Linked DNA regions of Homo sapiens: region 2 is linked to region 1. The links come from fine-mapping of genetic effects on gene expression. A gene starts in region 1. The other region holds a variant in brackets. All regions are shown on one strand. Distances are from middle to middle. Region 1 holds the start of SRP68 (signal recognition particle 68). Region 2 overlaps SRP68 (signal recognition particle 68).

Region 1 (5,456 bases):
CGGGCATGGTGGCATGTGCCTTCAGTCCCAGCCACTCAGGAGGCTGAGGCAGAAGAATCACTTGAACCCGGGAGGCGGAGGTTGCAGTGAGCCGAGATCGCGCCACTATACTCCAGCCTGGGCAACAGAGTGAGACTCCGTATCAAAAATAAATAAAATAAATACTACTTCAGCATCTCAATCAAAGCTACCAGGGTATAGATTATTTAAAAGAAAAAAAAAAAAAGAAATAGGCCAGACACGGTGGCTCACGCCTGTAATTCCAACACTTTGGGAAGCTGAGGTGGGTGGATCACCTGAGGTCAGGAGTTTGAGACCAGCCTGGCCAACATGGCGAAACCCCATCTCTACTAAAAATACAAAAATTAGCCAGGCATGGTGGCACATGCCTATAATCCCAGGTACTCTGGAGGCAGAAGCAGGAGAATCACCTGAACCCGGGAGGCATGGGCTGCAGTGAGCCAGGATTGCGCCACTACACTCCAGCCTGGGTGACAGAGTGAGACTCCATCTCAAAAAACAAACAAACAAACAAACAAAAAAAACAGCTACTCAGGAGGCTGAGGCAGGAGAATCGCTGGAACCCAGGAGGTGGAGGTTGCAGTGAGCCAACATTGCGCCACTGCACTCCAGCCTGGCGACAGAGCGAGACTCCATCTCAAAAAAAAAAAAAAAAACAAAGCAAACAAACAAACAAAAAAAACAATGCTCTAGACTTTCTAGCATATTTGCTGATATAGCAGAGTAAACAGGATATTAACAAAAGCAAAGCAAGTCCCACAATGATTTCCAAACATCTTGTATGTGATACTAACCTGTACCTCTGAAAATCTCCATGCCGTAAACCATGCTGCTGCTGGGATTCCTTAATAATCTGAAGAACTAGAGTCGAGATTAAGGAAAATCTTACCATAGCAAGAATCCAAACAAATCAAAACCTGTACCATCAGTCTATATCTGTGTCAAACCACAACACATTAAACATTTGTGAAATATAGCCAGGTACGGTGGCTCATGCCTGTAATCCCAGCACTGTGGGAGGCCGAGGCGGGTGTATCACCTGAGGTCAGGAGTTCAAGACCAGCCTGGCCAGCATGGTGAAACCCCGTCTCTACTAAAAACACAAAAAATTAGCCGGGCGCAATGGCTAGCACCTGTAATCCCAGCTACTCGGGAGGCTGAGGCAGGAGAATCGCTTGAACTTGGAAGGCAGAGGTTGCAATGAGCCAAGACAGCGCCACTGCACTCCAGCCTAGGTGAGAGTGAGATTCAGTCACACATGCACATGCACACACACACACACACACACACACACACAAATTTGTGAAATATTTAGTACACTGGTGAGATCTTTTGTAACCATTTTCAATATCTATCTTGTCACAGGACAGGGCTAACCTACAGGAAAACTGATTGCCTGAACTGTTACTACTTGCAAACTGAAAAAGGAGGGCACTACTGGCCACTGGAAACTGCCAAAACCCAGTTTAAATTAAGCTGATGGATTCTAAATGCTGACTATAATTGGGGTGCTTCACACCAATTAACACCTAGACCCCACATTTTATTCATTCAGATTCAGGTTATAAATGACATGTACTAAGCCTCCATTTGCATAATCTCCAACACCTGCCAAATCTAACTTTCCTTAACAGCTGTGATGCTTAGAGAGTCTATGATTAGCACATGTCAACCAAGCTAGGCTACAGTTTGCATAAAAGTATTAAGGTTTTTCTTTCAAAAGAAGAATGGCCAGATTCTCCTTTTAATAATCTTAAAATATTTAAGATTATGTACTAATCTTTAGAAAGTCCAATGACCTTCATCTATATAGGTATAGTTTTAATGTTTCCTCAACACTTCTCTAGAGACATATTTTAAAATAGTGAACGCTAAAAGGACTCTTTAAATTACTAAAACGGGACAAAGAGATATAAAGGTCTCAGTAAAATCAGGGCTCGCTAGCGTCTACTTGGAACTATTACCAGTAATTCAAAATATTTAACTCCAAGCGCCTGAGAACTTTAAGCACATTAAGATGTCAAGTTGAATGTGTTATTTCAGAAACTCGCCTACGTTTTCTCCATTTGTTATTCATTTCAAAAGGTCACAAACTAGTACCACAAGCACTTGGTTGAGATACACACTGATGGAAACTAGAAACCGATTCCTCCAGCTTATATGAATGACTGTCAGCAAGATAAAATGCCTACAGACCGATCAGAAAAAAATGACACAATCGATATTAACTACGGTAACTTACAATCAAAATGGGCAACAAGCTTTTCCTGAGTCAATCTTTACCTCCACTTTCAAAGTATCGAGCTGTAGGTTTTACTACTCAGTCTATGACGACTGTCAGACAAGAGTATTAAGCCAAATGTCAAGACTGCAGTTTCCTCTCCCCAGTTCAGTGGCTCAAGGTGCCAAAGCAAGGTGCTCAAGGTGTCACTTGGTCACAAGCCCTCCAACTGGACAACTGCGGGGCACCAGGGGAAACCTGCCTGATATCCCAGTGCCACTGGAAGAAACGGACCTAGCCAGGACGGCGAGGGGGACACGAGGAAAGACTAGTCGAGAGACAGACCCCCCCCGGAATTCTGAGCACCAAAAGGTAAGGGCGAGAGAAACTGCAACCCTCGGCCTCTCCTGCCAGGACTTGTCGGGACCCGCCGCCTCTCCCGCCCCCAGCCCTCCAGTTCGACACGTAATCATTGCGAGTTAGGCCCGATTACTCTAGGATACTCTCCAAACTCAGGCTATCCCCAAATTCTTTGTTTGCCTTCGATCCGGCCGAAGGGCGTTCGTTTTCTTTATTTTCTTCCCCTCCGGCACCACGTCCACCGCCGCTACCGCCGCCGCCACTGCCACCGCCGCCGCCACTGCCGCCGCCGCCGCCGCCGCCTGGGACCTGCTTCTCAGCAGCCATCTTGCCCCTGCGCCGCAGAGCAAGACGGGATAGGGGAGGCGGGACGACCTGGGCGGGTGAGAGCTGGACCTGCCTGGCCGGGCTGATGGGATAGCGGCGGACTCCGCCGCCGTCGGCCCTTGCTGCAGCAGGGCGCCATGTGCTGGAGCGCGCCTGCGCGAGGGATCCTGTCATCCCGGGTCCGGAATTGTGGCTGGCTAGGTGGGGACTTGAGGCCGCAGTGAGACCGTGGCTGCTGAGATCTCAGGGGGCAGTCCCACCTCCCACCCACTAAGGGCGGAGAACCGGAGGTGGACCCCAGGTCCTGCATCCTGGACTGGGGATCTGGTTCACGTCCTGCCCAGCAGAAAGCAGGAGACCAAAGATACTGGATTTCGGGGTGTCTGCATCCCCAGGGACTCAAGAGATGGGGTCCTCCCTACCGGAACGGGACACCCCGTCCGTAAGGGACCCGCCTCTGCCTGCCCTTTCCTCTGAGGCTGGCCGTAAGAACGCCAAGCCGGAGGAAGCGCTGCGCAGTCAGCAGACGGTGTCCTAACGGGGTGACTTTCTCAGACCGCTTGGGGCCGTGGACCACTGCACTTTGGGGCCGTCAGTCCAAAGAGGGAGAAGTGTTGAGACATGGGAAAATATGAATTTTTGCTTTGCACCTTCTAGAGTCTGAGACCTGGGATTCCAATCCCCGCTCCGTCATTAGCGGCAGGGACATGTTGGGCACGTAACTTAATCTCCCTGTAAATCTGTTCCTTCATCTATGAAATGGGGATAACCAATTTAAGTGGTTGTTAGGAAGATTAAATGACGGATTTTTTTTTTTTTTTTAGATAGAGTTTCGCTCTTGTTGCCCAGGCTGGAGTGCAATGGTGTGATCTCGGCTCACTGCAACCTCTGCCTCCTGGGTTCAAGCCATTCTCCTGCCTCAGCCTCCCGAGTAGCTGGGATTACAGGCGCCTGCCACCACGTCCCGCTAATTTTTGTATTTTTAGTGGAGACGGGGTTTCACCATGTTGGTCAGGATGGTCTCGATCTCCTGACCTCGTGATCCGCCCGCCTCGGCCTCCCAAAGTGCTGGGATTACAGGCGTGAACCACCGCGCCCGGCCCTGAACTCTATTTTGAATTTCCTCAAGGTATACGGAATAAGGTCAGGAGAAAAAGAATAAGGATCTGATGCATTCAGATTTAACTAACTCTCCCATACATCTCATTCCTTTCTCAGCAGATCCCTCTTAGAAGGAAGTGTTACCATTTCCTTGTTACAGCTGAGGAAACTGAGGCATGGAGCCAAAGACAGAGCCTGACACAATAGATGCTCAGTATATTGGATTGAATTGGAGGGAAAACGTTCAATGGGTAAGAGAAGGGAAAAAGGTGGCCGGGCTCGGTGGCTTACGCCTGTAATCCCAGCACTTTGGGAGGCCGAGGTGGGCGGATCACTTGAGGTCAGGAGTTTGAGACCAGCTTGGCCAACATGGTGAAACCCCATTTCTACTAAAAATACGAAAATAAGCCAGGCGTGGTGGCAGGCGCCCGTCATCCCAGCTACTCGGGAGGCTGAGGCAGGAGGATCGCTTGAACCCGGGAGGCGGAGGTTGCAGTGAGCCGATATCATGCCACTACACTCCAGCCTGGGCGACAGAGTGAGACTCTGTCTCAACAAATACAAATACAAAAAACTAGCCAGACGTTGTGGCGGACGCCTGTAGTCCCAGCCCCTCAGAAGGCCGAGGCAGGAGAACCGTTTGAACCCGGGAGACGGAGGTTGCAGTGAGCCGAGATCGCGCCACTGCACTCTAGCCTGGGCGAAAGAGCCAGACTCCGGGGCCCCTCATCCGCCTCCGCCCCGCGTTTCCTCCCCCCGATCTCCCAGGGGTCCTCTTTTGAGGGCACCCCAGCCCCTCGACGGTCCCGGGATATCCTGCACCCCTGCCAGGCTGCAGGGAAGCGCCGAGGCGCGCGGAGTGCGAGGTCCGTGCTCCCTGCGGCGCGGCGCACACGCAGGGTCCGGGGTCGACCCCTCCACCGCTCCGGCGTCTGCCGGGGAAGTCAGTCCGCCTGGTCAGCCCAGAACCCCCGACTGCGGGGGCTGGAGCTCGGAAGCAGGTACAAGCGCCACTCTCCGCCTGCGCCGTGGAATGCGCGCCGGGACCACTCCGCAGCCCTTCCCCCAGCGCCGCCGGCCGCTGCTGGGGACAACCTCGCCCTCCTGTCTCTTGCTCCTCCTCCTGACCCCAGCGCACCCCCATCCCCGCCCCAGATGAGGCAAGGCTCCCTCCGCCTTCAGCCCGGCAGAGTCGCACTAGGAGTTGCAGCGGCCGCAGCCCCGGGAGCTTCCCGCTCGCGGAGACCCAGACGGCTGCAGGAGCCCGGGCAGCCTCGGGGTCAGCGGCACCATGAACGTCTCGGGCTGCCCAGGGGCCGGGAACGCGAGCCAGGCGGGCGGCGGGGGAGGCTGGCACCCCGAGGCGGTCATCGTGCCCCTGCTCTTCGCGCTCATCTTCCTCGTGGGCACCGTGGGCAACACGCTG
Region 2 (5,000 bases), 27 kb before region 1:
TCTAGCCTAGGAGACAGAGACTCCATCTTAAAAAAAAAAAAAAAAAAAAGTAAAGCAAAGAAAGCCTTCCATGGCTGCACTTTATTTATTTATTTTGAGATGGAGTCTTGCTCTGTCACTCAGGCTGGAGTGCAGTGGCTTGATCTTGGCTCACTGCAACCTCTGCCTCCCAGATTCAAGTGATTCTCCTGCCTCAGCTTCTCAAGTAGCTGGGATTACAGGTGTGCACCACCACACCTGGCTATTTTTTTCTATTTTTGTAGAGACAGAGTTTCGCCATGTTGCCCAGGCTGGTCTCGAACTCCTTACCTCAAGTGATCTGCCCACCTCAGCTTCCCAAACTGCTGGGATTACAGGCATGAGCCACTGCATCCAGCCCTGTGGCTGTACTTTAGATCAAGCATTTCCTTAGCTTTAACAGACCCCCAAATGGCCTGGGGATCTTGTTAAAATGCAGATATTGGCCAGCATGGTGGCTCATGCCTCCAATCTCAAGGTTTTGGGAGGCAGAGGCAGGAGGACTGCTTGAGGCCAGGAGTTCGAGGCCATGAGTTCAAGGCCAGCCTGGGCAACATAGTGAGACCCCCATCTCTACAAAAAAATAAAAATTGGCCTGGTATGGTGGCTCATGCCTGTAGTCCCAGCTACTCAGGAGGCTGAGGTGGGAGGGTCACTTGAGCCCAGGAGTTCGAGGCTGCAGTGAACTATGATGGTGCTACTTGCATTCCAGCCTGGGTGACAGAGCGAGACCCTGTCTCAAGAAAGACAGAAAGAAAGAAAACAAGCAGAAGGTTCCGGGTGGGAGCTGAGAGGCTGCATTCCTAGTGAGGCCCCGCCGCTGCTGCTGGTCTTGCGCATGCCCTGCAGGACAGCTTCACCAGTGCTTCTCACTTGGTTGCATGTCAGAATCACTAAGGGGCCTTTCTAAGTCCCAATGCCCACTTCAGATCCCTCACACTGATTAGAACCACAATCTCTGGGGGTGCGACCCAGACATCTACCTTGAAAAAAATCTTCCTAAGAGATTTCAACGTGCAGTCAAGTCTGAGAGCAGTACTTCAGGTTTTCCTGTGGTGGTTTTTGTTTCTTTTAAATCAGAAAAATGCCTTCCCTTCTTCATACCTAAATCCTCCTCAGGCCTGGAGCACAGCCATGAGTGACACAGCCTGCAGCTCCTGGGCAGTCAGGGCTACACCAGGTCCCACGGGCAGCCAGGGAGGACCAGCCTGAGGTGGCGCCCAGCTGTTGTACCCTCACAGCTCCTCCACAGCTGACTCCATAACCTGCCAGGGCTTGCAAACAAGGAGAGGCCAACCTCTCACCTTTAGGCTGTTCTTGAAGGCGCCAGCATCAGAATTTACTTCATTTGCATATTTCAGGACTCTGTCATACAGGACAAGGGCTTCGCTCCACTTCTTCACCAGCACATAGGACTGAGCAATGAAAAAACACCTGATGGGGAGGGAAAAGAGCCACAATATTCTAAAGCAGCAATTACCCAAGACCAAGGCTTTCCTTGCAGTTTAGGCGAAATTTCACATTTGGAAACAGGTTTCTTAACGTGGGATCACCGCATGGGAGCCCCCTTCATGGGAAGTGTTCAGATTTGTAGGCTACCCTGCAGAGATGCTTCCCAGCAATCAGAGATGCCCAGGTAGGCCCAACACTGAGCCACGGTTTTTTACTGACTGGCTGACTCTGCAGAGGAGGAACAGTTCCCAAAAGGAGCATGGTGAGGCTGGGGACAGGAAGGAAGGAAGAACGCTGCCCGGCTCAAATAGAAATCCCAAACCCATCCACACACCCAAGTCGCAATCATTCATCTCTGCTCATCGCTTTCCAAAAACAAAACTCACAGAAGGTTCTTCCTGAGTCAAATTCCTCTCCTGGGCTC[A/G]GCAGAGCCTGAGCGCTGCTGGTCCCTGACAGGACAGAAGGGGCCATGGAGTGAAGACGGGGCATGCTGGAGCACCAGAGCACACTGGCATGTGAGGGCCACAAGAGGAAGGGCAAGAATGCATGGGGCTCTGCCTTCCATCCTGGCTGGGCCCCATCGTGCTACCCAGCCCACTTCCAAGTTACAAATGACACAAGTCATTTAAGAAACTGAGTTTAGCTTTATCCCAAGTCAGTTCAAGTTCCTTGAACTGGCCACACTGGTTCTGCTAATTAACACCCTTTCAAGGCGTGCCCCTTTTCCCCTGGAAGGGAGGAGGAAAGTACAGGAAGACAAGTGTTTTTGTTTTTTTTGAGATGGAGTTTCGCTCTTGTCTCCCAGGCTGGAGTGCAATGGTGCGATCTTGGCTCACCGCCAAGTTGCGGTGAGCCTCCCGGGTTCAAGCGATTCTCCTGCCTCAGGCTCCCAAGGAGCTGGGTTTACAGGCATGCACCACCATGCCTGGCTAATTTTGTATTTTTAATAGAGACGGAGTTTCTCCATGTTGGTCAGGCTGGTCTCGAACTCCCGACCTCAGGTGATCCACCTGCCTCAGCCTCCCAAAGTTCTGGGATGACAAGTGTGAGCCACCGCGCCCAGCGAGGAAGCCAAGTTTAACGTGTGTGCTCCACTCCTCCGACCTGGCCAAAAGGCAGACATCATCACTGGCCACTACTGACCACAGCCTTTAGAAACTCCCCTTGAACATGCTGGGCTGACCTTCCTCTGATCACAGGCAAGGTAACCATACACTCAAGGCCAACGGTCCCATCTGCTGTGGGCTGGGTCATGCTCCCAATGCTTATAGAACCTGGGAGGCGGAGGAAAACTGCCCATCCCATGGGACGTTACCTGTAAGCTTTGAACACCAGAGTCTTGAGGCCTATCTCTTTCTGGAAGGCTTTGTCTTCCTCTAAACCAGGAAGCTGGAGCAATTCCACCAGATTCTGTACAACAGATGCAACAAGAAAATTCATGAAGAGTAGATCTTAGGTTGAATTTTTGACAGAAGACCTTGTAAGAACGGACAAGAGTGAGGAAAAAAAAAAGCCCGAGGTCAATACGATGGGGAAAAGCCTGTGAAGAGATTGGGCAGCAGCCACACCTGCTGTCACCTCCACTCCCCTCTGATCTTGGAAACATATTTGCCCTTTACAACTCAACTCAGCTCACCCACCTTCAGAGACTTCTTGGCCCATCTTAGCTGGAAGGGATCTGTTCCAGCGCTGAGCTTTTATTTTGCTTAGCATCTACTCAGATGCCTTGACTGTGTGTGTCTCACAGTCCTACTGACTGACAAACTCCCTGGGGGCCGAGATGGCATGGACTCAGGTCTCAGATGCTCTATGGCACCTGGGAGCGTCTTACACAGGTCAAGTGCTCAGTGATGATCTGGGGTCACTATTCTCTGCAGATCAGCATGTCTGAGAGGTAGGGGCTCACAGACTGCAGAACTGGTGTAAGATCTTTGTCTCTTCCCAGCTACTAATAGGTCCTGCTTGTCACAGCCCTTCCGTGATACAAAGTTAAGTCACTTTGTGTCCGACACAGGCAAAGGAAAACCACAGGCCCTTGCCTTCCCGGTCCTCAAGGGTCACCTGTAAGATGATGTCATAGAGTCGGATCAGGTCCTGGGGCCGGGGTGAGCGCTTGCTGTCATCCTCTGGCTGCTGCTGCAGCAGAGCCCTCTGCAGACCTTTGGCCATGTTCTCATTACGCTTGATTGCCGTTGATAGCTTGATGTAAGTCAGGTAGCTGGAATGCACCACAAGTCAGCTCAAGTTATACTCAGAGAAGCGGAGGAACTGGGAGGACTGGACTACAAGTTGGGGCTGACCCAGAGGAAGCAGGGGGCGGGTGGGGGCGTGGCCACAGCAGGGCCATTTGGCTTGGGCTTCAAGGGACCCTCCATTTGGCTACTATCCAGTGGCAAGTTTGCAGGGGACCCGCATGAGATCTTATCACAAAATTTGATTTTTAGCTTGATTTATACCTTCTGCATCCTTTTTCAAGAACCACACAGTGGAAAAAAAAAAAAAAAAAAACAAAAAACAGAGAGTGGGATCCCAGCAACTCACGAGGCAGGAGATCACCTGAGCCTGGGTATTCAAGGCAGCAGTGAGCTACGATCACACCACTGCACTCCAGCCCGAGTAATAGAGCAAAACCTTGACTCTAAAAATTGAAAACAACAACAACAACAAAACAAAAAAAACGGGGGGCCAGGGGCAGTGGCTCCCATCTGTAATCCCAGCACTGTAGGAGGCCGAGGCGGGCGGATCATGAGGTCAGGAGATTGAGACCATCCTGGCTAACACAGTGAAACCCCGTCTCTATTAAAAATACAAAAAATTAGCTGGGCATGGTGGTGGGCACCTGTAGTCCCAGCTACTTGGGAGGCTGAGGTAGGAAAATGGTGTGAACCTGGGAGGCGGAGCTTGCAGTGAGCCAAGATTGCGCCACTGCACTCCAGCCTGGGCGACAGAGCGAGACTCCATCTCTCTAAATAAATAAATAAACAGGCCAGGCATGGTGGCTCATGCCTCTGGTCCCAGCTACTCAGGAGGCTGAGGTGGGAGGATCACCTGAGCCCGGGAGGCAAAGGTTGCAGTTAGCTCTAGGAGTGGAAGGAAATGAGGCAAGGGCCGCAGGGAGCTTCAAACACTGGTTGTGTTCTCGTTTTTGTTTTGAGAATCTTGAGTCAGGGCTGTCTCAGGCTGGAATGCAGTGACATGACCATGATCATGGCTGACCGCAGCCTTGACCTCCCTGGGCTCAGGGGATCCTCCCACCTGAGCCTCTGGAGTATCTGAGACCACAGGTGTGCACCATCACACCCAGCTAATTCAAACTCTTGGGCTCAAGCAATCCATTTGCCTCAGCCTCCCAAAGTATTGGGATTACAGGCGTGAGCCACCATGCCTGGCTGTGTTCTAGTTAAGCTATATAAAAATCTTAAATTAGGCATATTAAAATAAAATGTAAATGTAGCATATATACTTATTTGATAAAATGGACATACATGCATTAGCATTTGTATGCATTAAGAAATTATAAATGTAAGCCA

Evidence for each region.
Region 2: its variant is fine-mapped to the expression of SRP68 in whole blood (TOPMed, PIP above 0.99).

Annotation. Positions count from the first base shown.
Region 1 is chr17:76,069,563-76,075,018 of GRCh38, forward strand. It overlaps SRP68 (signal recognition particle 68), which reads right to left and starts at 2,955. Exons shown (of 16, transcript NM_014230.4): 1 at 2,746-2,955; 2 at 816-882. The coding sequence starts at 2,929. It overlaps GALR2 (galanin receptor 2), which reads left to right and starts at 5,219. Exons shown (of 2, transcript NM_003857.4): 1 at 5,219-5,456. The coding sequence starts at 5,322. RefSeq lists enhancers at 2,242-3,069, 3,068-3,117, 3,070-3,897, 5,284-5,456.
Region 2 is chr17:76,042,507-76,047,506 of GRCh38, forward strand. SRP68 (signal recognition particle 68) reads right to left here. Exons shown (of 16, transcript NM_014230.4): 11 at 3,532-3,688; 12 at 2,786-2,880; 13 at 1,323-1,452. Among named protein-coding and RNA genes, the nearest start is that of EVPL, 18 kb to the left of the region's middle. The variant A/G (reference allele first, on the strand shown) is at 1,895.